Regions from separate parts of the Homo sapiens genome. Here regions 1, 2, 4 and 5 are each linked to region 3. Evidence: fine-mapped expression QTL. A gene starts in region 3. Each other region holds a variant in brackets. All regions are shown on one strand. Distances are between the middles of the regions. Region 1 overlaps SPAG9 (sperm associated antigen 9). Region 2 overlaps SPAG9 (sperm associated antigen 9). Region 3 holds the start of SPAG9 (sperm associated antigen 9). Region 4 overlaps SPAG9 (sperm associated antigen 9). Region 5 overlaps SPAG9 (sperm associated antigen 9).

What was found.
Region 1: its variant is fine-mapped to the expression of SPAG9 in whole blood (TOPMed, PIP 0.96).
Region 2: its variant is fine-mapped to the expression of SPAG9 in monocytes after LPS (Fairfax 2014, PIP 0.91).
Region 4: its variant is fine-mapped to the expression of SPAG9 in whole blood (INTERVAL, PIP above 0.99).
Region 5: its variant is fine-mapped to the expression of SPAG9 in tibial nerve (GTEx, PIP above 0.99). The same link has a PIP of 0.9 or more in blood mononuclear cells, subcutaneous fat, sun-exposed skin and thyroid.

The regions. Positions count from the first base shown.
Region 1 is chr17:51,088,745-51,094,971 of GRCh38, reverse strand. All of the region lies in intron 1 of SPAG9 (sperm associated antigen 9), which reads left to right. Among named protein-coding and RNA genes, the nearest start is that of SPAG9, 29 kb to the left of the region's middle. RefSeq lists a silencer at 830-1,124. The variant A/G (reference allele first, on the strand shown) is at 2,276.
Region 2 is chr17:50,961,259-50,967,631 of GRCh38, reverse strand. SPAG9 (sperm associated antigen 9) reads left to right here. Exons shown (of 30, transcript NM_001130528.3): 30 at 1,245-5,458. The coding sequence ends at 1,360. Among named protein-coding and RNA genes, the nearest start is that of TOB1-AS1, 98 kb to the right of the region's middle. The variant A/G (reference allele first, on the strand shown) is at 3,649.
Region 3 is chr17:51,118,653-51,123,652 of GRCh38, reverse strand. It overlaps SPAG9 (sperm associated antigen 9), which reads left to right and starts at 2,785. Exons shown (of 30, transcript NM_001130528.3): 1 at 2,785-3,299. The coding sequence starts at 2,997. RefSeq lists enhancers at 1,434-1,693, 2,303-2,532, 2,049-2,863, 3,153-3,272 and silencers at 2,673-3,052, 3,303-3,382, 3,403-3,532.
Region 4 is chr17:51,055,353-51,061,725 of GRCh38, reverse strand. It overlaps SPAG9 (sperm associated antigen 9), which reads left to right. Exons shown (of 30, transcript NM_001130528.3): 3 at 5,244-5,314. Among named protein-coding and RNA genes, the nearest start is that of SPAG9, 62 kb to the left of the region's middle. The variant C/G (reference allele first, on the strand shown) is at 3,594.
Region 5 is chr17:50,974,101-50,980,473 of GRCh38, reverse strand. It overlaps SPAG9 (sperm associated antigen 9), which reads left to right. Exons shown (of 30, transcript NM_001130528.3): 26 at 557-728; 27 at 3,253-3,366; 28 at 5,527-5,703. Among named protein-coding and RNA genes, the nearest start is that of TOB1-AS1, 110 kb to the right of the region's middle. The variant A/G (reference allele first, on the strand shown) is at 3,396.

The DNA of each region.
Region 1 (6,227 bases), 29 kb after region 3:
AGTGTGCTTGAGCATGTTTTACATTTACTGGTGATTCTACTTCTCTGTGAATTGCCTATTCAGTTTCATTCACTGATAACTGGCACAAACTATGTCTGGAAGTACATAGCTATATATTTTTAATGGTTTTATAGTATTCCATTATAGGATCATCACTTAGGTGAAAAGGATCATTACTTGGGGAATCCAGAGTTTAAAAGAGACTTAAGAGATATATTATCCAAATGTAATGTATGAACCTTGTTTGGATCTTGAGTGTAAAAACATATATGAGACAACCTGGAAAACTGGATATTCCTTATTATATCATTAGGGGTTGGGAAATGGTGCTATTTCAATCCAGTTATTCCTTCAACATTTATCAGCTAAATTTTCTTGTAAAGGAAACTTCCCCTCATCAACTGTTTGGTTACCCTAAGGTATAGTTTGTATATAAGAAAGACAAAAAGTGCTGGATTCGTCAATTCATACTTTAATAATTTCCAAGTGCTCTTTCCTGTTTTGTTTCCCTCCTCACTACTTTTAAAAATAGCATACTATTCTGGTTCCATGGGAGCAATGACTTTTCTTTGGTCTCTGAGTATATTAATTATAGTTTTCATTTGTTCCCTGCTTTGTCTGTTTTGTCAGAGTCCCATTTTTATTTCTTATAGTTTTGGTTTCTCTCTTTCAGGCTAGAACTTAAAGTGCCTTATAATTCTTAATTATCCTTCATGTTTTAAAAGTGAGACACTAAAAAAGGAGGGTTGGAAGCTTTGTGTGCCTGGATACAGTTTACTGCCTCTTGGCAACCCAGATTTCAATATCCCATGGTCCTTTCGTAGAGACACTTGAGTTTTTCCAGAGAAGGATAGTCTCTTTGAGGTGTGGCTGGTGGAGTGGTAGGTAAGCCTAGATATTTACATTATTGCAACCTGGATGAAGGCAGGAAGGAGGCCCTATTACTGTTTAGTACGTAGACTTTAGACCTTCATGTAATTCCACTTGTCATTTGGCACCTGCCTGGCTGTGCCTAGAGTGTTCCTAGTCTAAAATTTCTGGTTGAGTTTATTGAGAAAACAAACCTCTTATTTCCTGTGTGGGTGAGCAAGGAAGGCCACCTGGCCAGTCTGGTGTGGGACTGTCTACCTACTAGGGATATTACTAACTAGTGATTTTAGACTTCCACTCAACCCTCCTGTTTTCAGTCCCACCCTCACACACCACACCAGTTTTCTATTACATACTTTCCATAGTATGGATCTGTTATAATTTTCTTTTTTTTTTTTTTTTTTTTTGAGACGGAGTCTTGCTCTGTCGCCCAGGCTGGAGTGCAGTGGCGCAATCTCGGCTCACTGTGAGCTCCATCTCCTGGGTTCACGCCATTCTCCTGCCTCAGCCTCCCGAGTAGCAGGGACTAGAGGCACCCGCCACCACGCCTGGCTGATTTTTTTAGTAGAGACGGGGTTTCACCATGTTAGCCAGGACGGTCTCGATCTCCTGACTTTGTGATCCACCCGCCTCAGCCTCCCAAAGTGCAGGGATTACAGGCGTGAGCCACCATGCCTGGCCAGATCTATTATAATTTTCTTATCCACTGTCTGTTGATAGACATTTAAGTTATCTTCCAGTTGTGAACTGTTACAAATAGCCCTTCAATGAATGTCTTTGTACATGCCCCTTTCTGCATATTTGCTTTTTAATGGCAGGACAAACTTTTTTCATATTAAACACCACTGATACTTTTATTCCAATAATTTATTTTCATTTTTTTGTTTTTTTTAAAAAGAGGGTTTTGCTATTTTGCCTAGGCTTGTCTCGAACTCCTGAGCTCAAGCAATCTGTCCACCTCAGCCTCCCAAAGTGCTGGGATTACAAGCATGAGCCACTATGCCTGGCCAACTTTTTTTTTTTTTTTTTTTTACAGAAATATCTAAACATTGATGATTACCGAGAATAGTAGAATATATTTGAACTCCCATATACCCATCATTCAACTTCAGCAGTTACCAACAAAATGCCAATATTTTTTCTTTAGAAAAAAAAATTTTTTAAGAGACATTTGCTTGCTCTGTAGCCCAGGCAGGCGTGCAGTGGTGTGATCATAGCTCACTGCAGCTTAGAACTCCTGGGCTAAAGCAATCCTCCCAGTTTAGCTTCCTGAGTAGCTAGAACTACAGGTGTCTGCCACCACGTCCAGCTAAATTTTTCTTTTTCTTTTTTTCTTTTTTTTTTTTTTTTGTAGAGACAAGGGTCTCTCTATGTTCCCCAGGCTGTTCTCAAACTCTCGGCCTCA[A/G]GTGATCTTCCCACCTTTGCCTCCCAAAGCACTGAGATTACAGGCGTGAGCCACTGTGCCTGGCCAAACCAATTTTTCACCATAATATTAAGGCAGACCAAAGACTATATCATTGTATCTTTAGGAGATAGGGCTGTTTAACAAATATAACCACAACACCATTAACACATCTAAAACTTATAAACAATTACTCTTTAATAATATTTAATACTTAATAAGTGTTCATATTTCCCTAATTGTCTCTTAAATGTAGTTTTGTAGTTGGTTGTTTTCAATCAGTATCTAAACAAGAGAGTCTATACATTTATACTTGGTTCAATATGTCTCAAGTTCCTCTTTATATAATGGTTCTTTTTTTCTTTTTTTCCCCACTTGACATTTATTGTAGAAGAAACCAAATCATTTGTGTTAAAAAATTTTCCACATTTTGGACTTGGAAGGGATTATATCCCTTGAGTGTTATTTAATATGGTCTTCAATCCTGTCTTATTTCTTAAAAGAAATTACATTTAAAAACAATTACATTTAACTAATTAATATAATATCTTGATGGACACTTAATAAGCCAGCCCTTTATTTGATACTATTTTTTAGACAAGTACTATAGTCAAAGTATTTAAATGGCTATTCTTTTTCTTTTCTTTCTTTTTTCTTCTGCATCTTTACTCCAACAAGCAACAACCTTTAGGGAATTTTTTTTTTTTTTTTTTTTAACTTTGGGAGCTTGTCTTTTCAAAGTATTCATTTGTTTTTCCCCAGAACAGTGGGGCGAAACAGTCCCTATAAGCCATCTGGACTTAAAAGCATTTTGCTTCATCACAAAGCTTACTCTTTTTAGATCCTGACATAAGTCTGTATTGTCCACTGATTTTTTTTTTTTTAACGGTGTCTAGTTGCTCCCAGGAGAGTTGTCTGAAGTCACTTTAATGTTGTTGCTGGCCTATTAGTTATTGAAAGGGAAGAGGGGTATTTAGTGAAGATGTGTTATTATACCTGCTGAAAAAGCTCATTCACAGGCCCTTAATCCCCCTAGTCCTTAAAAAAAAGTGGGTATGTGTGTGAGAAAAACAGAAAAGGGGAGGAGTATGTGCGTTTCATACCAACATACCTGAGTGATCTGACAAATGCTTGTGCTGAGGGGACTCTCTGGAATTTCCAGGGCTAATGTGGTTTTATAATATGCAAACAACAACAACAACAACAAAAAAACAGAAAAACAAACAAAAAAAACTGCTGCGCTTCTCCTGCCACGATTTTGCTGTTGGCCTAACCCTATCGTGGTTATTCTAAGGTTTGCCAAGCGTAGTAGAGGGTGACCAACTTATAAAGTCATGCCACTGGCAAGCAATTAAGTCACATTAAATCATTAATGACTATCCTAGACTTTTTATGAGCATTCATTTCCTTTTTTTTTTTTTTTTTTGTATACAGGGTCTTGATCCGTCGCTCAGGCTGGAGTGCAGTGGCTCACTCTCAGCTCACTGCAACCTCTGCCTCCTGGGCTTGGTGATCCCCTCCCACCTCAGCCTTTGAGTAGCTGGGACTACAGATGCACACCACTACACCAGGCTAATTTTCATATTTTTCGTGGAGACAGGGTTTCGTGGAGACAGAGTCATATTGCCCAGGCTGGTGTCGAACTCCTGAGCTTGAGTGATGAGCCCTCCTTGGCCTCCCAAAGTGCTGGGATTATACAAGCATGAGCCACCGTGCCTGGCCTGTGCTTTTTCTTGTTCACATATGTAATTTCAGTGTGGTTACATTATATGCAGACTTGAACTATGTGATTTTTAAAAGTTTCATTTCATATTCAGAGTTTGAAATGTTACCTTCTCATTTCAGAAAGTCTTCAGAAATCATGTTATATGAAAGCCTGACTGAGCTGTAAACCAATGTTGTGCTGTTATCCTATGTTGGTATTACCTAGGCAGTAACAGAAATATCAGCCATCTCTTATCAGCCTTAACCTCAATTAGGTGACTGTTGAATTATGCAAGATCTTTTGTAAATCGATCTTTTTTATAAAATGTAATTACCCATGATTAAGACCTTTCATCTTCTGTTAAATTTCAATCAATAGAACATAGGGCTCTCTTGTAACTTACTACATTTCCCAGTACCTTGGAATATTTAAAACAATAGGGGCTCAAGTTGTGTTTTGAAAAGATGGATGAATGTAATCTTTTTTTTTGAGATGGAGTCTTGCTCTGTTGCCCAGGCTGGACTCGGCTCACTGCAACCTCTGCCTCCCAGGTTCAAGCAATTCTCCTGTCTCAGCCTCCCCAGTACCTGGGATTACAGGCATCTGCCACCACACCTGGCTAATTTTTGTATTTTTAGTAGAGATGGGGTTTTGCCATGTTGGCCAGGCTGGTCTTGAATTCCTGACCTCATGATCTGCTTGCCTCGGCCTCCCAAAAATGCTGGGATTACAGGCTTGAGCCACCGCACCTGGCCAAGTGGAATCTTACTTGTCTTTTTTACTCGCTTTGTGAATCAGAGAGATTCTCAACTTATTCTTTAGTTTATAGTTTACCTTTACATCGACTCAAAATTTAATGGTGAATTGTAGTTACCTGGGCATGCCATGATCTTTAGACGTTTGCATGTGCTGTGACCTCTGCCTGGAATGTCTTTATCTCAGTAAAGGTTTTAGGCAAACCATTCCTTTTAGAGTAAGCTAAAATGACTTCTCTCTTTTTTAAAAAAATAGTATATATGGCCGGGCACGGTGGCTCACGCCTGTAATCCAGCACTTTGGGAGGCTAAGGCAGGTGGATCACCTGAGGTCAGGAGTTCGAGACCAGCCTGGCCAACATGGTGAAACCTTGTCTCTACTAAAAATACAAAAAATTAGCTGGGCATGGTGGTGGGTGCCTGTAATCCCAGCCACTCGTGAGGCTGAGGCAGGGAGAATTGCTTGAATCTGGTAGGCAGAGGTTGCAGGGAGCCAAGATCATGCCACTGCACTCCAGCCTGGGTCACAGAGCGAGACTCCATATCAAAAAAAAGAAAGTGTGTGTGTGTATGTGTATATATATATATATATATATATATATATATATATATATATATAAAATAAAGTGTATATATATACATATAATAAGTAGATATACACATATATATTATAATTATATATATATAATTTTATTTCAATATTTTTTGGGGAACAGGTAGTTTTTGGTTACATGGATAAGTTCTTTAGTGGTGATTTCCGAGATTTCGGTGCACCTGTCGACTTCTTTTTTGTTTGTTTGTTTTTTTGTTTTTTTGAGACAGAGTTTCACTCTTGTTGCCCAGGCTGGAGTGCAATGGCACAGTCTCACCTCAGTGCAACCTCTACCTCTTGGGTTCAAGTGATTCTCCTGCCTCAGCCTTCCAAGTAGCTGGGATTACAGGTGCCCACCACCAGGCTCAGCTAATTTTTGTATTTTTAGTAGAGACAGGGCTTTACCATGTTGGCTAGGCTGGTCTCGAACTCCTGACCTCAGGTGGTCCACCTGCCTCGGCCTCCCAAAGTGCTAGGATTACAGGCATGAGCCACCGTGCCTGGCCCAACTTCTGTTTTTTTTTTGTGTGTGTGTGTTTTGTTTTGTTTTGTTTTTGAGACAGAATCTCCCTCTGTTGCTCAAGCTGGAGTGCAGTGGCGCAATCTCGCTCACCGCAACCCCTGCCTACCAGGTTCAAGTGATTCTCCTGCCTCAGCCTTCCGAGTAGCTGGGACTACAGGCGGGTGCCACCTCGCCTGGCTAATTTTAGTATTTTTAGTAGATGCGGGGTTGCACCATGTTGGCCAGAGTGGTCTCCATCTCTTGACCACATGACCCACCTGCCTCGGCCTCCCAAAGTGCTGGGATTACAGGCGTGAGCAACTGTGCCCACCTCCCATTTTTTTTTTTGAGACGGAGTCTCACTGTGTTGCCCAGGCTGGAGTGCAGTGGCACGATCTCGG
Region 2 (6,373 bases), 160 kb after region 3:
ACAGCCTTTTGTCTCAGCCAGTTAATTTTTTTCATTGAAATTTTTTAAAATTTAAGAGCCAAACTTAATTTTTTTACCTTCTAACCACCTGGGTATGTTTCAGTTCAGAGATGGGAGTTTGAACTGAGTGTTCTCCTCTCTCTAGTTTGATATTGCTGTGAAAAGGCCATTACAGGGCTGGGTAAGGGAAAGTTTGGCCTGCAGAGAAAAATGCAGATATTTAGGGTTTTTTCTCTTCTGTTGTTTCTAGTCAACAGTATCAATATTTTCTTTTGTCCAGCTGAAATTCACATGGGGCACATTACAAAATTCTGTTAGATCAGTGGAATATATCTTTAGGTCCTGTGGTGTGTATGTTTTTAGGATTCTGCTGAAGAATCCATCCCACTAGACAACTTTTCACTGGGTTGTGCCAAAATAACCCTGCTCTGTGACAACAGATACAATTGATGCAAGCTTGTATCGAGAATTATGGTATGCCCTGCACTGGGTCTTATGGAGAGGAGTGTGGTGTACCCCAGACTGGGCCTTGGAAGCCAGTGTCTGATCAGGACACCATGGATCACATTCACTTAGCCGTGATGCAGAAGAACCTGTATCTTGGCTGCTACCCCAACCTCTTTGTTTCTCCTTTTCCATTATACACTGTTAATTTGTAACCTATCCTAAACTTGAAAATCATTGGAAGAAAAACCCAGTAGCTGGTGAATCTGCCATCTGCAGTGCTGCAGGCTAATTATTTTAATTTCCATATGCTTGTGTCAATTATCTTCAATTGGAGAACATTACACCTGTCATTGATAATTGTGAGTTATTTGGGTTTAGTTAGTTTGCTCTGTACCTGTGCTCACGCATTTTATAACACTATTCTCAGTTCTTAGTTTAAAATAAGTGACAGTAGACTCTTCATTTTGGATGAACACAGAATTGCCTTCTTAGCTTCCCATGTCTGGACCATCGGTATGCAGACATGTTGGGGTGGCTTTTTAACGTAGTATAGTGAACTGGATTTTATAAATACAGTCTGAAAAATGAATTAACCTTTTCTGAAGTCAAGCAGTGGCTTGGGTGAATATGGGTGAGGATTCTGACTCTTAGTATTTCTTCTACTATTTACTCTCCAGTGAAAGTCAGACAAGTTTTGGGCATCTTGTTCATGGACTAACCACGAGCATTACATCTGACTCACATCATTCTATATTTTATGTGTTCAGCCTAACTTGAGTCTTCTTATCATTCACTAGGTGATGAAGGTGGAGAATCAGAACTTCTTGGAGAGGATCTTCCACTTGAACCTTCTGTCACCAAAGCAGAAAGGAGTCACTTGATAGTGTGGCAAGTGATGTATGGCAATGAGTGAGCCCATGGGAAACAGGTGGAGATGGGGAAGCCGTCTCTTCTGCATGGTTTATTTTCCCTCTATCCTTTTATTTAATGCTCTTTTGTGAGATAAGTTTCACCACATAATGTGTGAGCATTTTTTCCTGTTAACTTTATATTACAAAATCCGTTCTACCATAACAATACAGAGGAACTAGCTGTGTTACTGCACCAGTGTTATAGGTAACTTCAGTATATTATGAACAAATCAAAGAATGTTTACTTCCTGCAAACTGGTGAATTATAGAAAGCAATCCAGATGTGGTTTACTCTGCCACAGTCTAATGTCATTCACTTCATTTGATGGGGTCACTTGTTAGCTGTCACTAATAATGGAATTAATGGGAAACACTTGATAAATGAAACTGTACCGTTAAATACAATAGCTGAGTTTTCCCCAGTGTATTGTAAAATTGACACACACTAATACAAGATGGATTATCAGGATGTATCTAAATGTCCCGAGAGGGTTAAAAGCTAACTGTAAATTACTTTAACTTTCACTTTCAAATCTGACAAATCTTGTTTATATGGTATATAAAACTTTGTTTTCATCAGATTTGGGGGGGTTTTATATTAAAGAAATTAAGACTACACTATTTAAATAAACGTTTCCTGTTTCTGACTTATTAGAGCTCTAAAGTTTATGAGGCCTACTTCTCTGAATATTCTGATGGGTTTTTTTTGAGACCAGTCTCATTTTCATACTGACATGTCTGAAAGATTTATTATTTATAAAGCTTAGGACATACTCTGGGAAGCTTAGAAGATACTTCAGCACTGGGAGGATTTTTTAAAGGAAATGTGTTTTGTATTTCTTGTACCAGAGAATGGTGATGTTGATTGAGTTTTTTCCATGTAAAAAATGTACTTGTTTGCCAAATGTTCCTAGATTGCTCTTAACCTGTTAATACAAGTAAAACTGTAGTGGGGATGGAGTCTGGCCTAAGTACAGAATGAGGGATTTAATTAGAAAAGTTATTTTCTTTTGTTCTGTATCAAACTGCAGAACAGCTATATACTTGGTATTTTGTACGTGAATAACGTTTTAGCTTTTGTGCCCTTTTGAGCTTGAAGGGTTATCCTCAAAGGGGAAAACTATGAAGGGGAAGAAGACAAACCTAAGATACCATAAAGTAAAGGTTGACATTACATATTTTCATTCACAATGCCCATTAAAAAAAAAAAATAGGTTGGGCATGGTGGCTCACGCCTGTAATCCCAACACTTTAGGAGGCTGAGGCAGATGGATTGCTTGAGCCCAGGAGTTCAAGACCAGCCTGGGCAACATGGCGAAACCCTGTCTCTACCAAAAAAAAAAAACAAAATAAATTAACCGGGTGTGGTGGCACATGCCTGTAGTCCCAGCTACTTGGGAGGCTGAGGTGGGAGGATGACCTGGGCCCAGGAGGTGGAGGTTGCAGTGAGCCTTGATAGCACCACTGCACTCCAGCCTGGGTGACGGAGCAAGACCCTGTCTCAAAACAGACAAACAAGCAAAAAATAGATTAAAGTCTGGATTTCACTGATTTTCTTGCTTAATAAGTTTTTTAAAACCACGATGCTGCAATTTTTTCCCTCTCAAGCTTCTTGAAAATGTGTGATTTACCCTTTTTTATCTATTACTCTAGGCAAAGCTAAATATGATTTTTTTTTTTTTTTTTGAGACGGAGTCTGGCTCTGTTGCCCAGGCTGGAATGCAGTGGTGCGATCTCAGCTCACTGCAACCTCCACCTCTCAGGTTCAAGTAGTTCTCCTGCCTCAGCCTCCCAAGTAGCTGGGATTACAGGTGTGTGCCACCCTGCCCAGCTAATTTTTGTATTTTTAGTAGAGACAGGGTTTCACCACATTGGCCAGGCTGGTCTCAAACTCCTGACCTCAGATGATCTACCCGCCTTGGCCTCCCGAAGTGCTTGAATTACAGGCGTGAGCCCCCGCGCCGGTCCGAAGCAAAGCTAAATGTAATTTTATGTACTGTTTTAACAGTATAAACCTATGGGATAAAGGCCCCCAATCATCAGAAGGACTACTGAAAAGAAAAGAAAGCAAACGTAGATGTCAAATTGTCTAAACATTCTTAAGTACCACTGATTTTTTTTTTCTGGACTATTATACAAAGATGTCTGTAAAAAGTATACCAGTGGCTTTTATGCATATACACGATTAGGCTAGATTGTGAAGTACATGGGATTTCATGAGCCAGAGGAGGCATTTGGATCCATTGGGCCACATGTGACTATAAGCACATTGTGTACACAATAAAATTGT[A/G]GCCACTCATGTATTAAAACTGTTTTGGTAAAAGCTGTATTAAAAGAATAATTTTTTGCTTGAGCTACTTAGTCACTTTTTTGCAGGGCACCAAAATGTAGGCTACTTTTCCATAGCTTGTTTGCTATGTTTTTATTTCATCTTAAATCTGAGCCATTTTTGGCAATATCTTTTAAAAAATCATTATTAAACATTTATTGGAAATGTTGTATAGATTCACAAGAAAGAGACACCAAAGTGTTTGGGAATTTTAATCCCAAGAAGTAAACATCCCAGAGTCAGATCCCATTTGCTGTTGTTCAGCCATGTTTGTATGACTGAATGTAATTTAGGAAATCAGGAGTTAGAGATGAAAAATACAAACATGTCAAATGGTTGTAATTGCTTTTTTTGAACTTACTGGCTTTAACTTAAGTAATATAGGTGTGTAGTTGTTTTATCTAAAGATGTCAGATTATCTGTGGCCCTGTTAATTAACTGCAGGGACCAGAGAGAGGACAAAAATGCCTGTATAATTTGCTTTAAAGGCTTGTCCTTATGTTTGTAATTTCAGTTAAATATTTTCTACAGATTGCTTCACTTCCCCTTTCCCCCAATAACAAGTTCATATTCTTGTAATGTTTACTTTGGTCAACGTGGTAATTTTTGGAAGAAAATGCCAAAATGTAAGCTTCTCACAAGCAGCAAAGGAATGTAACTGCCTGTAGCTACCACATCAAGGGAGAGAAGAGGCTTGCGTACTTTGGGTTGATCTCACTGTACAAAAAAAGTGTACCCCTATTGGAAGAAATAAGGAATACTTGAAGGTTTCTCCTTTTTTTACACTTGAGTCATGTGCAAGGTTGAACCATATGAAATTGCCAGTGTTCAACCATTGCTGATCTGCAAAAGCGACAATATCATATGCCTCAACCTAACACTTACTCTTAAATGCAGGTTAAAATCTCTGTGAGGCAAAGGGATAATATTCTCTAGGAACTCACTTTTGAGAGTATTTTTCTCTAACCCATGTGGATCTAAATTTTAAAAATAGGAATGAATCTCTTAATTGCAGCTTGTGGAGAGTATAAAACATTTTGAGCACAATATGCAGCACATAACTTTTCAGATTGTGTTTGCATAGAAAAGGTTAAAATCAATTCTTTCAGTTACTGTATTGTTCATTTCTTGTAAAGGTCTTCCTACATTTGAGACGAGACCCTTTAACATAGGCTGCCTTAGTAACAAAATAAAACAGATGTGTCATAATATTAACTGTCCTAAAGAACATGTGTCTTGCAAATGCCATGGAACTGAATATTTATTTCCTTGTGAGTATTATGACCGTTACCAAAGGACTCAACCAGATTTAGGGCTCTTCTTAATTGATCATGTTCAGAAAGGGACTCATTTGGTCCCACTTTGTAACATGGGAAGAGTAGAAGAGAAAATTAAATGTGGAAATCATAAATGCTTTTCTAACAGGGTTATGCTATTCTGTAACACTAAATGTCTGTCTTTTCTCTTAAAAGATTAAGTTTTATTAATTTTGTCATACATTTCTCTATTTGAATATATCTTAACCATTTTATGTTCCAAATTCGTTTTTTGTCCAAGACATTCTATCAGAATTTTACTTGCCTCTATAATCTGAAAAATGGGTTCTAGAATGTCCCACTTGCTGTCTCTTAGAGGCTGAGCTTCATTTCTATGAGCAAAGAGCTCATTTAGCAATGTAGTTATTTCAGTATTTATTTCTATTATGGAATCCCTGGGGTTCAGAATGTAACTTTGTACATGAGATATATATAAATATGTATATGAACATGTATGAGGTCTAGTGTGTTTTGTTTTGTTTTTACCGTTCCTGGGGATCTGAACTTGGTTTTTATTTGCAAGTCCAATAATCTTCCCCATCACACATGTCATTCCTGAGGGTCAGGACTGTTGCCATTTGGCACCAGCTAAAGGTGAGCAGTGGGGAACCCTCATGCTGGTCAGCTTGGCTCACGTGTTCAGGTGAGATATGAGAATAGACAAGAGGGCTTAGGAGAAATGTGGGATCCCTGAGTAACAGCCCACACATGATACTAAGGCATACTATTTGCCAAATTATTCAATAATAAGAGGCAGGGTGTAATGTAATTTTAACGCAGCGTGCTTATTTGTGATCCATTTGCTTGGGCAAGACTCGGGAAGGAAGAATGACTATAAAACTGATCATGTGGCAGCACAATGTGACTCCAGATTCAGTGCAGCGAGATTTAATCTCTTCCAGTGTGTTTTGTTTGTGCCTTCAAGAAACGTGGGGTTTTAACGTGATAGTAAAAGTTGCCCCAGTTGGCATGTTAATAGGACCATTCACTAGATGAAGGCATAGTCATCTGTTCAGTGAGGTTGGTTGCCCTAGAATACAATGACTAGGGCGGCTCATTCCTAGTTTTTATAGGACCTTACCCTGCCTGCCCCTTAGTCCCTGGGGAACAGGGCAGGAGCACCAGCCTCATCACTAGAACTGTAGTCTGCAGTGTCCCCCTTGTGGAAAAACTATCTTTCAGACTAGTGGAGAGAGACTGCTTCAGCCCCCAGGCTCTTCCTTAACCAGCCCCTGATCCCTCAGACTCAGTGTAGGCATGAAAGCCTAGAGATCACAAGGGGCCTGGACTTAATCTTCAGCAGCAGCCAATTTATTAGGAAAGGTTTTATAGTTAGGGGACTTCTCAGAATGCCTTAAATATTGGATAAT
Region 3 (5,000 bases):
TTTGCTCTTGTTGCCCAGGCTGGAGTGCAATGGCTCGATCTTGGCTCACCACAACCTCCGCCTCCCAGGTTCAAGCGATTCTCCTGCCTCAGCCTCCTGAGTAGCTAAGAATACAGGTGCGGGCCACCACGCCCGGCTAATTTTGTATTTTTAGTAGATACAGGGTTTCTCCATATTGGTCAGGCTGATCTTGAACATCTGACCTCTGACCTCAGGTGATCCGCCCGCCTCGACCTCCCAAAGTGCTGGGAGTACAGGTGTAAGCCACCGTGCCTGGCCAAAAAAAATTTTTTTTTTTTTTTTTGTCAGGGATGAAGGTCTCACTATGTTGCCCAGGCTGGTCTCCAACTCATGGCACAAGCCATCCTCTTGCAAGTGCTGAGATTACAGGCGCGAGCCACCACGCCTACTCCCCTCCCCTCCAACGACTTTCTTTTTATTGCCAAATAATAGTCCATTGTATACCTATGTCACATTTTATCCATTCATCAGCTGATGGTTATTTAGCTGAATTTTATTTTAACTAAATGTTATCTCTGATAACTGGCAGAAGCTTAAAATCAAGACATAAGTGTGTATCTTTCTATGTTGAACGTATACCTAAAGAAGTATACTTATTAGGAATGACAATTAAAATCTCGTACTTGAAAAATCGATACTTTTTTCTTTTTTCTTTTTTTTTTTGAGATGGAGTCTCACTCTGTCGCCCAGGCTGGAGTGCAATGGTGTGATCTCTGCTCACTGCAACCTCCGCCTCCCAGGTTCAAGCTATTCTCCTGCCTCAGCCTCTTGAGTAGCTGGGATTATAGGTGTGCACCACCATGCCCGACTAATTTTTGTACTTTTTAGTAGAAATGGGGTTTCACCATATTGTTCAGGCTGGTCTTGAACTCCTGACCTTGTGATCCACCCGCCTCGGCCTCCCAAAGTGCTGGGTTACAGGCATGAGTCACCACGCCCGGCTGATACTTTTTTCTTTAAATTTTTTGATGTGTATGATAATATTGTGGAAAGAAAAAGTAAAGCCTTGCCCTATGTTTTTTGGCTCTTCTGATCCCCCAGGAAAAGAGAGGCATGCATATAGGTAGACCAGGTGAGTGACAGCCCTCAGGAAGAGAAAATAAAAGAGGAGAGATTCAGATCAAGACTTTTTCTAGTTTTCAAATATGAAAGGTTAAGAAGAGAAAGGGCATTTGCGGCTCACAGCCAACCAGCTGGTCGGCATTCCTACTACCCAAATATCTAAATGACATAAGGGTGAATGTGGGGTGAGGGTGAGAACGGGAAAAAACACAGGCCGCAAATTCAGTCCCATCTGGCACTTCATAAGACTTAGTATTTTCATCTTTGTCCTTCCAAATTTATAGGTTTACTCTTGCCCAACCTTCATATTGTTTTTATGGGTCTCCAGGTGGGTCATGCGTAGGAAACTTTAGGGGACTACTTCATACTTGGTGGGAAGTACTTAAACTTGTAAACCCCAAGCTAAGGGTAGTTATGATCCCGGTGGGTGGCCAATTCTCCCCTTAAACCTATGTTTATCCTGCCTTTCCTCCCCCTTTTCTTAAACGAGTCGGGACGGAGAGCTGAGTCACCTGAGACACAGAGAAGGGACTTTTGAGAGTGTCTTCCGTCCCATTTGCGGACGTTAGATGAGCACACCGGGATCCTTGACTCAGCCCGCTCTAGGCGTGGGCGTTGTGTCATTCCCCACACGTGACACTCTCCCAGGCGGCAGAAACCTCACTTGTCATGGGACTTATTCACTCCAGTGACTCCACCCCTTACCTCCTCTGTTCCCCAACCTCCCACTTACCCTTTCCGCCCCACTTCAAGACTTGAGGAGAGGAGGGTGGCTGGAGCCTGGAAATGTCCCCGTCCCAAGTTGGCCAGAAGTAGCAGACACACTATGTGGGAAAGTGCCACATGTAACGTTCCAGTTTCACCCTTCTCCAGAATGCTATCACCCTTCCTGTTTATTTTTTAATAACTTGAGATATAATTCACACGCCATATGATTCACTCACTTAACGTGTAAAGTTGAATGTCTTTTAGCATATTTAGAGTTGTGTATTCATCACTATAATACATTTTTTAGAACATTTTTATTATCCCAAAACGAAATCCCATACCTATTAGCAGTCACTCCCATTTCCCCTCATCTCACCCTTGCTCTTCCATAGCACAAAACAGTTCTATTCTATTCGAGACCACCTTTCCACTTGGGCAGACCCTGGTTATGGTTTTTTTTCCCTCCCTTTCTGTTTCCAGTTTTTTTCGGAGCCCGGAATTCTCAATCTGGGTAATTGGTTTGAGTCCCGGCTCAGCCCGTTTCCCGTTGTAGCTGCGTGACCTTGAGAGCAACGCCACTTTCCTGGGCCTAGTTTCTTTGTCTGTGAAACGAGGTCCAAATATCTACCTCTTTACGCCTGTTGTGGGGATGAAGTGAGTAGGTGCTTTGTGAGCTTTAAAAAGCCATAGAAATGCCAGCTAAGTTAACTCGTCACTCTTCCCGAACCCCTCCCTTTCCCCTGGGACCCGCCCCGCGAATCCCGCTGTGGATGGATACTTCTCCCCACCCGCCGACCGCAGTCTTTCCCATTGGCGCCCGCACCGTCTTCGCGGCGCCGGGTGTTGACGCCATGGCTTCCTCCGCCAGCGCCCGAAGACGCTTGGCCCCGCCCCCGGCCGCGCCTGGCCTCCCGCGGCGCCCCGCCCATCGGGCCGACGCGGCGCCGGCCCCGCCCCGCGGATGACGTGTGGCGCGCGCGGCCGGGCCGCCCCGGCAGTTGGTGCAGCGGCGGTTGGGGTGAGAGCGCCTACGCCACCCCTCCCCTCCTCCGGCCCCGGCCCCCACCCCGCCGGGCCCAGCCCCAGCCCCGGCCCGGGCTCCAGCCCTAGTACCCGTCCCAGCCCGAGTCGGGTCCGTCCCGTGCGGGCAGGTGCCGCCCCTCTGCCGGCGACGCCCCGGGCCGCCCGCCCGTCCGCTTGCCACCATGGAGCTGGAGGACGGTGTGGTGTATCAGGAGGAGCCCGGCGGCTCCGGGGCCGTGATGTCGGAGCGGGTGTCCGGCCTGGCCGGCTCCATCTACCGCGAGTTCGAGCGGCTTATCGGGCGCTATGACGAGGAGGTGGTCAAAGAGCTGATGCCGCTGGTGGTGGCTGTGCTGGAGAACCTGGACTCGGTGTTCGCGCAGGACCAGGAGCACCAGGTGGAGCTGGAGCTGCTGCGGGACGACAACGAGCAGCTCATCACCCAGTACGAGCGGGAGAAGGCGCTGCGCAAGCACGCTGAGGAGGTGAGGCCGGCGGCAGGGCGGGGGCCGCGGGATCCGTCTCCGGGGGCGGCCGGGGCGGGGTCGCGGCCCGGTCGGGGACTAGAGGCGCGACGGGCCTCCTGGAGGGCGGGCCTGAGGCCGATGCCCCCTGGGACCGATCCCGGCGGCCTCCAGGTACCCCGGGAGCCAGGCCGGCGTTGGAAGCCGAGGCCGGCTACTGAGTGTCCTGGGAAGGGAGCGAGATGGAGGAGGCAGGGCCCGGGGAGGAAGCGGCAGCCTGGCCTGAGGACACCTGGGGTTGGCCAAGGGCGGAGATTGTTGGGTGTCTGGTTGCTTCTTGTTGAGGGAAGTTTCCGACCACCGTGGGATAGTCAGATGGCGGTTCAAAGTTTTACCCTTGGGGAGGGGGACACTTCTGCCCTGGATATGTAACTTCCGCTAGTTCCAGTACCTTTCCAGGGGGTTGCCTTGCTTTGGGAAGTTAGAGATCTCCCTCTTTCGGTCAGTTTCTTCTTGACGTTTTAATCTTGTTGAGAAAGACGTCTTATTTTATGTTCTATGTGCCTTGGTTGACACTTTGTCAACTTTTAGATGTTGTGTGGCAGTACTCAATAAATATATAAACAATTTCGTTGGTATCCCAAACCAAAGCATTCCTCCGTATCAGGTTGTAACCTTGGACAGTTCCCTTCAAAAACCCTCCGTTTATTTATAAAAAGGATTGGGGGGCGGGGTTGGGAAGATGTAGGTGACAGTTGGCAACACTTTTTCCGTCTGAGTTTCCTTCTTAGACTGCTGTTTATACGTGCATTTGGCCACCTGTTAACTCTAGCACCCGAGCAGTGACCTGGGCGCCCTCACCTCGACTCTGTGAACCTTTTGGAGTTCTAGGGTGCAAGTGATAGGTCCTTGGCTTCTTGAGACTGACAAGGAGTTTAGCTTTCAGCCTGCGTTGGCGTTATTTCTGTGGACCTTATCAAAGGCAGGTGATGTGTCCTATTTTTGTTTCTCAAGCACCTAGCACACCTGCTTAAATACATGGTGATCAAAGGAGGCGAAATAACTAATTATTGAAGGAATGACATAGTATTTTTCAAAAAGACTTGAAGAGTTTTTAGGATGTGAGGTTTGTAGCTCATTTCCTGACACTGAATAGTAACACCATTAAATTTTTGTTTTATTTTGTCACGTATACCTTTGCATCTGGTTAAATAGTTCTTTTTCCTTTTTTAAAAGCTTGACTGTAGTGATGATTTTTAGTTCTGATTGTGGGATCCAATTTTCTCAAAGGAATGCTATTGAATTTGCCAAACAAAATTGCCTTTTTTTTTTTTTTTTTTTGAGACGTAGTCTCACTCTGTCGCCCAGGGTGAAGTGCAGTGGAGTGATCTTGGCTCACTGCAACCTCTGCCTGCCGGGTTCAAGCGATTCTTGTGCCTCAGCTTCCTAAGGAGCTAGGACAACACTCCCCGCTCATTTTTGTTTTTTGTAGAGACAGGATTTCTCCATGGTGCCTAGGATGGTCTTGAACTCCTGGCCTCAAGTGATCTGCCCACTTTGGCCTCGGGCTGACCATCCCAGTGCTGGGATTACAGGCATGAGCCACCGCACCCCGCCAGAATGGACTATTTCAAGAGCTTTTCCTTTCATATAGGGAAGGAAGGGATGAAAAACCAAATAATGATAGGATCACAATTTCCGCTTGTTTGTTAGCACTCTTTA
Region 4 (6,373 bases), 63 kb after region 3:
TGAACAATGGTCATATTCATTTAGATAAATATTGGAAATCTCCCAAAATTAATGGTATATTCTGTTATATGTCTCCTTCCCACAAGCCTTTTTTTTTTTTTTTTTTTTTTTTTGGAGACAGAGCTTTCGCTCTTGTTGCCCAGACTAGAGTGCAATGTTGTGATCTCACCTCACTGCAACCTCCACCTCCCAGGTTAAAGTGATTCTCCTGCCTCAGCCTTCTGAGTAGCTAGGATTACAGGCGTGCACCACCATGCCCAGCTAATTTTTGTAGTATTAGTAGAGGGGTTTCACCATGTTGGCCAGGCTGGTCTCGAACTGCTGACCTCAGGTGATCAGCCCGCCTTGGCCTCCCACAGTGCTGGGATTACAAGTTTGAGCCACCGCTCCTGGCCTAATCTCACTATTAAGTGGTGTACATTTGACACAAAGCAATGCAAACAAATTGATTAGGAAACTGGCATAAAATCAGTCAGGACCTGACTTTGTTTTGTGGCATTATAATGTTTTGTTCTGTAAGGTATAAACCCAGCTCTCTGACCAAGTCAGTTGACAAACATCTTATATAAAAGCTTCTCTCGGTGGGGCGCGGTGGCTTACGCCTGTAATCCTAGCACTTTGGGAGGCCGAGGTGGGTGGATCACGAGGTCAGGAGATCGAGACCATCCTGACCAACATGGTGAAACCCCATCTCTACTAAAAATACAAAAATTAGCTGGATGTGGTGGTGCACGCCTATAGTCCCAGCTACTCAGGGAGGCTGAGGCAGGAGAATCGCTTCAACCAGGGAGGTGGAGGTTGCAGTGAGCTGAGATCGCACCATTGCACTCCAGCCTGGGGACAGAGTGAGACTCTGTCTCAAGGAAAAAAAAAAAAAACAAAAAAAACCCTTTTCTCTGAGGTTTGCTTAATGGTATAAGTCAGCTAGGGCCGCCATAACAAAATATTACAGACTGGGTGGCTTCAATAGCAGAAATTTATTTCTCACAGTCTGGAGGCTGGAAATCTGAGATCCATGGTACAAGCAGATTTGGTTTCTCCTGAGGCCTTTCTCCTTGGCTTGCAGGTGGCTGCTTTACCTCTGTGTCCTAATATGGCCTTTTGCCTATCTCTTGCTGTTATAAGGATACCAGCCCTGTTGGATCAGGGCCCCACCTTAATGACCTCATTCAACCTTAATTACCTACCTTCTTCTGCCTTTTTTTTTTTTTTTTTTTTTTAAAAAGACAAAGTCCCGCTCTGTCACCGAGGCTGGAGTGCAGTGGTACAGTCTCAGCTCACGGCAACCTCCATCTCCCAGATTCAAGCGATCCTCCTGCCTCAGCCTCCCGAGTAGCTGGGATTACTGCTATTTGCCATGACGCCTGGCTAATTTTTGTATTTTTAGTAGAAACAGGGTTTCACCATGTTGGCCAGGCTGGTCTCGAACTCTTGCCCAGGTAATCCACCTGCCTCGGCCTCCCAAAGTGCTGGGATTACAGGTGTGAGCCACCTCGCCCGGCCCTTAATTATCTTCTTAAAGGCCCTATCCCCCAAATGCAGTCATATTGGGAGGTAGAGCTTCAACCTATGAATTTGGGGGGTGAGGGAGCACAATTCAGTCCATAATAGGTCAGGAGATAAGAGTTCTCTGTGGGGATGGGAAGCAAAGAGTGTTGTGACTTGACAATCAGATCCAGAAAAGTCTTACAGACCATTGTAAGAATTTTTTTTTCCTTTTAAAAATGAGATCGGAAGCTTTGAAGTTTTGAGCGGTTAGTCACTGTTTGATTCCATCTCTATTTTGAGAATGTAGGGAACAAAGACTAAGTAGAGAAACTAGTCAGGAGACTAGGATTATTATTGTAATAACCTAAGCAAGAGATGATGTCTTGGGTCAAAGTGAGAGTGATGAAGGTGGTAAAAGTGGTGAGATTCTGGTTTTTGGTTTGTTTGTTTGTTTGTTTGTTTGTTTTTTGAGATGGAGTCACACTCTGTCGCCAGGCTGGAGTTGCAGTGGCGCAATCTTGTCTCACTGCAACCTCTGCCTCACTGCAACCTCTGCCTCCTGGGTTCAAGCGATTCTCCTGCCTCAGCCTCCCAAGTAGCTGGAATTATAGGCATGCACCACCACGCCCAGCTAGTTTTTGTATTTTTAGTAGAGATGGGGTTTCACCATGTTGGCCAGGCTGTTCTCGAACTTCTGACCTTGTGATCCGCCCACCTCGGCTCTCAAAGTGCTGGGATTACAGGCGTGACCCACCAAATTTTCTTTATCCAGTCTATTCGGTAACATTTTTGTTCTCTCCCTGAGAATGCTACAGTCAGAGCAATAAAGCTTGTTTGTTATGGTTCTGAATAGTTTGTTTAAATCCCATTCTACATGTTGAACTCATAGCCATTGTAGGATAACATAAGGAAGAATGAGTATTCAAGCAGAGGAAAGTGCCTGTGTGAATGGATGCACATCGTGTTTGAACTGAGGTGGGCTGGGGCTATACAGGCATAAATACATCAGATCACTGACTCCTCCCCAGAGGTAACTACTATCCTGACTTGTAACATTTCAGATTAGTTTTGTGTTATGTCTTTGAATTTTGTATTCTTTTGTTTCTGCTTCTTTCCTTCAATATCATATTTGTGCTATTGGTCCATGATGTTGTGTGTGGCAATAATTTGTTTATTCACGTTGTACAGTATTCCAGTACATGAATATTTATCCATTCTACTCTTGATGGACAGTTGGATTGTTTTCAGATTGTGCTTCTTTGAACATTGTTTTAAATACCTTTGGGTGGACATATATATAGGCTTTCTAGCAATGACATTGTTTTGTGATAGGGTTGGCAAACATTCGAAACTTAACTAAATCTTGCCAAACAGTTCTTAAATTGGGCATACCAAGTTACGGTGTATGAAACCATACACCACAGTTTATGAAAGTTCCAGTAGTTCCACATCCATACTGGCACTTGGTGTGTTGTGTTTTTCACTGTAGCCATTCAGAAGCATGGTGGTGTTGCATTTTGGTTTTAATGTGCATCTCCCTGACTTGGGTACACATTTTGCTTGGCAGTTTGATGCCCTTTGTATCAAAGTATCTGTGAATGGGTTGTTTCTGTAAGAACAGAGGAGTTTTTTGTTTGAAGCATACTCCCCTCTGCCCAAAGTGATATCTTAAAGTAAACTCCAATATACAAAACAGATTAAAATGAGTATTTGCTGAGAAGCAGTATAGCATGGTAATTAAGAACACAGATTCTGGAGCCAGATTCTGATAGGAATCCTTGCTTTGCCATTTTCTATCTGTGTGACTTTGGGCAAGTTACTTAGCTCCTATTTGCTTCAGTTTCCTCATCTCTACCATGGATGTAATAATAATACTTTCATCGTAAGGTTAATGTTAGGCTCAAATAAGTTAGTTTATATGCAGTTCTTAGGACTGTATGGTACATAGTAAGCACTTGATGTTGTTGGCTGCTATTAGTAGTGGTGGTGTTGGTGATACAAATTTATTTATGAATTTATATCAGCTGACAAGAATAATAAGGCTCTACTATTGAGCACAAATTTGAAATTGAGGATTATGAATGATAGTTGGATTTTATTTCAGC[C/G]TCAGCATCCAATTTTTGTTTTTGTTGCACATTATCAAGAAAATAATGATTCAAAAAGATGAACAATTGAAAATAGATATGGTTTGTCCAGTAGTCTCAGAATTCCTTTAAGCTTTTAATCAGTTTAAATGACAAGTAGTAGAAAATGTTTATTTTGAAATTATTAAATATCCATAATTTGCTTGGATTTCCTGTTTTTAAATAAAAATCATAGAATTAAATTTTATTAAAAATTAATTTGTGGTTTTAGCATCTATTATTTTATCACAACACATCTGCATAATAAATTTGCTTATTATCGCTTTCAGCCACAGGATAAGATGAGCAGCAGATGTATTCAACACTTGTGTGGCATGATAAAATGTGCTCCGTGGGTACTGTAGTGTGTGTTTGCTCTCTGGTGCAAATGTAATGAGCCAGCGACACATAAGCTTGAATTAGAAACAAATCAAAACAAAGACAGCTACAGTTTTCCTAATCACATATTTTCAAGATATTTAAACAAATTATGGCAAGTAAAGGTACACAAACCCAAAATGAATTTTCTGGGCAGCACAAGGTATGTTTTGTTTGGTGTCTGGTGTGTTAATACTAGGAGGCATATAAAACATTCATTTATCTGCTGTCAGAATATTAGTTCATACTAGTTCCTTCTACAGCTGTCCTCCACAGTCACCAGTTGTAGATTACACACAGCCTTGCCTGTTTGCGGCCAGCTGACCCTTAAACCCAGGGAACATTTTCAACTATGCTAAGGCTTTCCAACAGACTAAATGAGTACCCTGATAAACTCCTCTAGCACCAGCTTTATTTCTCCCCAGACTGTCTCCCACTGCTCCTTAGCCAAGTATGGGCTCCTCCAGTCTGGCCAGTCTCCCCTCTGCCTCACCACCACCCTCTGCCTCACCACAGGCATGGTTTTGTGTTCCCTTCTCTGTGGTAACAGTGTCAGGAATGCTCTCATTACCATCTGTCTTGAGTACTGTAATTTCTTCCTTTGTGGTTCTGTGTGGACACCACCTCCTCCCTGAATCATTCCTCTTTGCTATCAGTTATTCTTTCCTGTGGAATCCTGTCCTGACATTCTGTATCTCAGGATCTATTAATAAAACTTTTTTTTTTTAAATATCCTGAAGTTGTACTCTGTGAGCACTACCTCAAGTCAGTGCCACTCACAAAACCCATCAGCAGAGGGAGCTAAATAAAAGAAGATGAGTCCCTGAAATTGAGGAGACCTGAAGCAGAAAAAGTACTTATAAACAATCAACTTTCACAAACTGCCAGTGCTAAAGAGCTTGAGTAGTGTTGGAAATACATTATTTGGGCCCTAATCCCAGTTTAAAACTTTGATGAGGTGATTTGTGTTTTTGAAAGAGTTAATTCTGTATCATGTTAAAAAAAAAACTGTTTAGGGGGATGACCTGATAAATATAGGAATATTAGAGAACCAATCTAAGGTATTCCGCTCGTCTGAAAGTTTTCATTATTAAGGATAATGAAATGAGGTCACTGCTTTGTGAAGACTTGCATATGGAACACTGAGTCTGAAAGTTGCTAAGGATTATGGATAGCCCATTCTGAGTCTAACATGTACTTTTTCAAGTAAATTTCTTATTTTGTTTTGATCAAGTGTATGTATCTTAATTTCAGTTAGCAGACTTGAAGAAAGAGAAGCAGAACTGAAGAAGGAATATAATGCATTACATCAAAGACACACTGAGGTGGGTTTCTAGGTTTTTCATTACCATGCTATTATTGAGACAAAGAAATGAACCTTAGAAAATATGTCTTAATTTTTCTTTGAAAATCAGAATTTTTTAAAAAAGAATAATTCTTGGGGATTCTTTCAAGAAAACATTAAATTTCATGTGGCATTTACCTAGTTACCAAATGTCAACTTTTCTTGGAATTAGCTTTTCATGGGGTGAATTAGTATGCTACAGAATAATTTAGTTATTTAAGGCAGCTATAGTACTTCTCTCCTTGGCTGGCTAAGCAAAAACCTATGTGCACATAATGAAGTTTCTGTGATGCTTAGATGAGAGAACTGATTTGTTTTTTTATGAGTTTGGAAATTATGGATTGGTAAGTTATTGGTAAAGGGTCTCTACATCTATTATCCATTGTAAAGGACTTATTTGCATTAAGCTCATAACAAATAATATAAGCACAAATTATAATGTGTTAAAATAACTCAAAAGTAGGTTTTTTGCATGAGTTTTCAGTATTTTAAATTAACAGTTTCAGCACAGTCTCCTCAAAGGAAATTAGAAAATGTACTTGAGGGTTTTTTAACCTTTTTATGATTCCCTGTCAGCCTTTCATGTTGCTTTTGTTTCTGTTATCTTAATGTGAAAATTATTTTTGTATGTCATGGTCAGTCTGGGTTTCACATACCCAGATAAATATAATTTTTATAGTTTTATACAATATTTGTTACATGAAAAAAATAATTCCTCTCTCTTTCCCCTTGCTAGTCCTATATTTCCCATGATACATATGGTTCCAGTCTTAGCCCGTTTTTTTGTTTGTTTTTTTTTCTCCCTAGTTTGTGTGATCTCTTATCCTGCGTCTGGTAGAAACTATGTTGTTGTTTTTCTTTAGAAGAGTATAAAAACCTTTATAATCTATAATCATAAAACAATTTAAAATCATGTTTTGGAGAATATCCACACAGATTGTATTCTGTATACAGTAAGCATATTAATGCTACAAAGATTGTATTTACATTATTATATTGTAGCTATATTCTGTTGTTGCTTGTGTGTGTGTGTGTGTGA
Region 5 (6,373 bases), 140 kb after region 3:
CAGCACTTTGGAAGGCCGAGGTGGGCAGATCACTTGAGGTCAGGAGTTTGAGACCAGCCTGGCCAACATGATGAAAGCCTGTCTCTACTAAAAATACAAAAATTAGTCCGGCATGGTGGTGTGCGCCTATAATCCCGCTACTCAGGAGGCTGAGGAAGGAGAATCGCCTGAACCCAGGAAGGGGAGGTTGCAGTGAGCCGAGATTGCGCCATTGCACTCCAGCCTGGGCGACAAGAGTAAAGACTCTGTCTCAAAAATAAAAAATAAAGAAATAAAAAAAATCTTTCTGTTGAGCACTGTTACATAGTGTGGATGCGCTAGTATTGCTGTTATAAGGTGATATCCTATATAGTGCTGAAGTCCAATATCCCGTTCTTAGTTCTTTATTTTTTGCATTCCAGGATGAAAACAATTGTGTATATAAGAGTAATCATGTTTAATATATAATATTTGGGCTTGTCTTTTAATAGTCTGCTAACTTGTGCAAATTAGCACAGTTTTAAATATGAAATTCTATGTAGCAAAAGTAACTTTGTGATTGGACAATCTCTCCTAGAAATCTTTTGATGCACATCCCAGGAAGGAGAGCCAAGTGCGACAGCTTGCGTGGGTGGGGGATGGCGTGTGGGTCTCCATTCGCTTGGATTCTACGCTCCGTCTCTATCATGCACACACTTATCAACATCTACAGGATGTGGACATTGAGCCTTATGTAAGCAAAATGTTAGGTAAGCTTCCAACGCGTTTTATCTTTACCAGTCAAAGAGGGTGTTTTATTTTATCTATCTATGTGTTTATTGAAATGAGGTCTTGCTTTGTTGCCCAGGATGGAGTGCAGTGGCTATGCACAGGTGCAGTCATAGCACACTATAGCCTTGAACTCCTGGGCTCAAGCGATCCTCTCACCTCAGCCTCCGGAGTAGCTGGGACTGTAGGTAGGCACAGCCACCTCACCCAGTCCTTGTTTTTATTTTTAAATAGTCTAAAATGCTGGGTAGAACCAATGAATTAAGTTATCTCAGGAGTAGTGAACTTTTATCATTGAAAGTGTCAGACGTTTCAATCTACCTTACTCTTTTTTTTTTTTTTTTTTCTTTTTTTCAAGACGGGGTCTCACTCTGTCACCTAGGCTGGAGTGCAGTGGCACCATCACGGCTCACTGCAGCTTTGACTTCCTGGGCTCAAGTGATCCTCCCACCTCAGCCTTCCCAGTAGCTGGACAGGCCTGCACTATCATGTTGGCTACTTTTTTTTTTTTTTCCTGTAGAAATGAGGTTTCACTGTGTTGCCCAGGCTGGCCTTAAACTCCTGGGCTCAAGTGATTGGCCCAGACCTCAGCCTCCCAAAGTGCTGGTGTTACAGGCATGAGCCAATGCACCTGGCCCCTTATTGTTCTTGATGGAAAGTTGGGATCATTTTGGACTCCTCTTCTCTTATTTCCCACATCTAATCTGTCACTGGGAACTGTCAAGTCTGCCTCTAAAACTGTATTAAATCAGTTACTTCTTTATCTCTACCACTATCCTTTTACCCCCAGGCCTCCTAACTGGGCTCCCTGTTGCCACCCCAGTCTGTTCTCTGCCTAGTAACCAAGGTGCAGATATTACCTTCACACACCTCCACTGTTGCCTTTAGGTGAGGTGACATGACCAGGAGACCTTACATGTTCTCAAACACTCTCCTTGCTCATACCGACCCACAGCTCAGCAAGCTCCTTCCCATTTCAGGGTCCTCACATGTGCTGCTGTATCATCTACCTGGGAAGTTCTTCTTGGTCCCTTTTTACTTACTTAGCTTTCAGGTCATAGCCTAACTGTCATAATCAGGAGAGACCATTTAGGTCCTGTCATACTTTTTCTTCATGGGCTTATCATTATTGTGATCGTACCAGTCTTATGTGATTCTTGTTTATAATCTCTCCCCTACAGACCCTAAGCCCCGTGAAGATCAGGGACCATCATTGTCTTGTTCCCTGCTCTATCTTTAGCACCTGACCTAGTGTTATAATGATTATTAGAAATGTCATAAAGGATTCCTTTCATGAAAAATGATTGAACTGGATCAGTGGTTTTCAACCATTTAGAGTTACTGCCCTCAGAAAACCTTATTTCTAGCTATGTACCTTCTCCCTAGAATATATACACATGCAAACACAAACTAATTTCAGGGATCTACTTTGACTGGAGGTTAAAGGTTCCTAGGTTAGGCTGAATGGTAATTAAGCCTCCTTCTAACACTGTGATTCAGCGATCATGCCCTCAGTTCTTGTAAGTAGAACTTATGAGTACTAGTGTTGTCTTTCTTAAATGTATTACCTGCTCAATAAATTTGTCTTTCAAGTCACTGAAAATAAGATCAGTTGTAAAAATTAACTTGAAATACAAAAATGCGTTTGTTCTCCCTAAATTATTTGTGTATAATACTTAAAATGTTTAAACTGCTTTAGAACCTAAGTATATAAATGAGGGGAAAAGTATAGATTTTGTTTACAAAGATTTTTATCTGTGCAAAGAAAACTTAAGGGAAACCAGAACTTTTTCAGCTTATAAGATCAAAGGACACTTGATTTATCTGGGTTTGTTTGTTTTTAGAGACAAAGTCTTGGTCCGTTGCACAGGCTGGAGTGCAGTGGTTGGATCACAGTTCACAGCAGCCTCAAACTCCTGCGCTCAAGTGACCCTCCCACCTCAGCCTCCCACATAGCTGGGACTACAGGCATGTGCCACCATGCCTGGCTAATTTTTGTACTTTTTGTAGAGGTGAGGTCTGTTGCCCAGGTTGGTCTCAAACTCCTGGGATCAAGCAGTCATCCCACCTTGTAGGATCTACAGGAGTGAGCCACCGTGCCCTGCCAGTTTCACTGTTTTCTGTTGGGGTTTTTTGTTTTATGTGTTGGTTTGGTTTTACAGTTCCCTAAGTAAATCCTGTGTCACAGTTCCTGATGTATCCTATTTCCTGTGTACTTTTCTTCTAACTAATAATGTTATGTTACCCACTTTTAGGCTTTTCTTTTTCCATTAACCCTGAATTGTCAGATAGACAATAAGCCCCAATATGAGCTTACTTTGATGTGAACCTTCAGGAAACATCCATCTAGCTCTAGTCACATTTCCTCTGTGTTGTATCAATCCTGCTACTACTACTTTCTTTCTTTTTTTTTTGTTTTGTAATCCTGCTACTTCTAAGGAACTTGGAATGTAAAACACTGTCTGCTTTAGTTTCTCAATAACGTGTTCCCTCCTTTCTTTACAGGTACTGGAAAACTGGGCTTCTCTTTTGTGAGAATTACAGCTCTTATGGTGTCTTGTAATCGTTTGTGGGTGGGGACAGGAAATGGTGTCATTATCTCCATCCCATTGACAGAAAGTAAGTATATTTTTAGATAACTGCCATGG[A/G]ACAAATAGGAGAATTATAGGAAATAGTTATGTCTGAAATTCAAATCTGTGTTAGCTCAGAAAATCAGTGATGGCAAAGATCTAGCTATAGTTACTTCACTCAATGAAACTTATAAATTCTAGGAAAATAAGTTTTCATGTATCAAGACCAATACTCATAATTAAAAGTTTTTCGTTGTCAAAACATTTTCACAGTTCAGGAATCACAGTCCTATTTCATCTTTTGAAATAAAAGTTAAAGTCCATTTTTCTTAAGCCTTATTATACCATTATCCAAAAACACTACCTAGCATTCATCTTAGTTTTTCATATCTCCTTAGCAGATAGTTTAGTATATTCCATTTGTCTTATTTGAGGTTTAAAAAAAGTTGTGGAAGAAGTTTCTCAGGAGTTCAGCAAGCCTTTCCATCTATCTTCTATTTTAAAAGAATGTGATTTATTGTTTTTATGAATAAAATATACCTCGTGTGTTTCTCATATGATGTTCCATTACATTAATCATCCATTAAGTAAATGTTTTTGTGTTGCAAAATTCATGGCAGGGAATGGTTTAAAAGCAAATACTGTAAGTCTATAAAATACATTAATACATATACACTTCAAAATCACCATACCTTTTTTCAGGCCAGAGGAGGGAGAAAGACTAGAAGGTATTTCGGAAGCCTTTAAAAGAAAGCAAGGTTTCAATCCCACCTGTCTTTTCTGCAGTTACTTATAAATCATATTTAGACCTCTCCTTATATCCTAAGAGATTCCAGGATCCCCTAGAGTTCATTTCAGTTATTTGTAAGAGCTTCATTTTAGCATAGTTATTGGAACAGGATTTGTTTTTTAAAACACACACACACAGAGAAATAAAGGAGAAATTTTAGCATTTAGGAAATGCTGCACATTGAGTTCTTAGTGTTTTGATTCAGATTCACTAAAATTGCTTTATTATTTAAAAAAAAAACACCATAAATCAGATTTTCCTTTTTCAGCAGAGATTCTAATAGAAGCCTTGGGAAGAACTTTATGTATTACTTGGTATTATGCCAAGTGGGATCTTGTTATTTTCGTTAGGGGCTTTGAGCACCAGGTTTACCAGATAGAAGACGCTGAGAGTGGTGGCTCACAGTAATTCTCTCCTCCCTGTCATGCACCTCTCCATGTCCCCTTTCCTCCTTTCTCACTTTAGCCGTAATCCTCCACCAGGGACGTTTACTGGGGCTGAGGGGTAAGTGCAGATTCTGAACCAAACTCTTCTTCCTGGCTTCTAATAGCCACTGTAAGGCTGTTACCACTCCTCTAGAATACCCTCTTGAATGTTCCTAAATGTTATCCACTTGCAGTCACTGCATCGCAGCAGGTGTCTTTTTTTTTTTTTTAATGTTTGTTACATGGCCACCAAACTGCTCAGCAGCTTAGTCTATTTATCATCTTTTGTTGCAGCTGAACTTTCTTTCAGACTTTGTTTTCCTTCCAGTATAAACATGAAACATCTCTTAAAGCTGTCATTAATTTACATCGTTTACTCTTGTTACCGATCATATTTCTTTCATTTACTTACTTGCCCATGGAATGGGGATGTTTTGTGAGTCTGGTCTTTTACAGTACGCAGCACACCATCAGTCTGGTATCAATAAAAGCTGCTCTATTGTAGTGGCTGGATTCTTGTAAGCACAACTTTTTACCAACCCCCTCAAGGGAAATATTCTTACTGTGAGGGAGAAAAATCAGAAGATAAACTATAAAGAAAGACTTTATTTGCAAATATACCCATTTACTTTAAACTGTATAATGGTTAGTTTTCTAACATGTGCATTAAAAACAAAACAAGAAACAACTAAGATTCAAATTTGTTTTTTTTTTAACTAAAATTATTTTTTAAATGAATAGATGTGTTTAAAAAATAAGCTTACTTATTGCTAGACTGGCAAAATCCCCTACTCCATTTACTGAGGTACTTAAAAATAACTAGCATGCTGTATCTCTTTTTTTCCCAGCTTTGTCTTGAATTGGCATTGCCATCCTTGTTTTATCTCAACTGGCTGTAGCTTTTAGATAATATCATAAGGATTAACCAGTAACCTCTTACATTCATTACTGTTTTCTAGGGGAAAATATTTGGTATTTGGTTTTTCTGTTGCAGCAAATAAAACCTCAGGTGTACCAGGAAATCGTCCTGGAAGTGTAATCCGTGTATATGGTGATGAAAACAGTGATAAAGTGACTCCAGGGACATTTATACCCTATTGTTCAATGGCACATGCACAGCTTTGCTTCCATGGGCACCGGGATGCTGTGAAATTCTTTGTGGCAGTCCCAGGTATGTTAGATTATTCTGTTGAGATGTTCCATGTAATTGTCTCTCTTCTGTCATCTCTTGGTTCCACTACCTAATAGTCTAAGGCTAAGTACTCGAATTGCAGGTAATTTCAATATATACGAAGGAAGTTCTGTAATGGAGGTGTGACTAAGGTGCTATAGGGATACTTGAATGAAGTTACTTTGGAATATCTCTCCCACCCCCAAAGATAAATTTGTTGATTTTTCTTTAGGAGACTTGCTTACTTTTGAAAAGCAGTAGTATTATTTTATCATCGTGGATTGCCAAAAATGGTCTTGACCTAATAAGAGAAATCACTAGAAAGAAGCTTCTATCATCAAGGCTGCATGGAGGAAGAGAGAATGCACTCTGGTACCTTTAGCAGCTTAATAGGAAAAAGCAGTGAACTAGGAGGCCTGGGGGTCTGGCCCCTGTGTCTCTGCCACTAACCTCGAGCAAGGCACTTAACCTCAGAGACTCATTTCCTCACTCCTAGGTGGATGTGATTAATATCTGCTCTGCCTACTTCATTTGTTATGAAAATTAATGAAAATGCTACTGGGAGCTATAAAGCACCACCCAGAAAAAAGATGGAAGTGATGATGTCCAGTGAAAAATGACAAATTATCCATTGACAATACTTAAGTGATGTCACTGACCATCTGTAAGC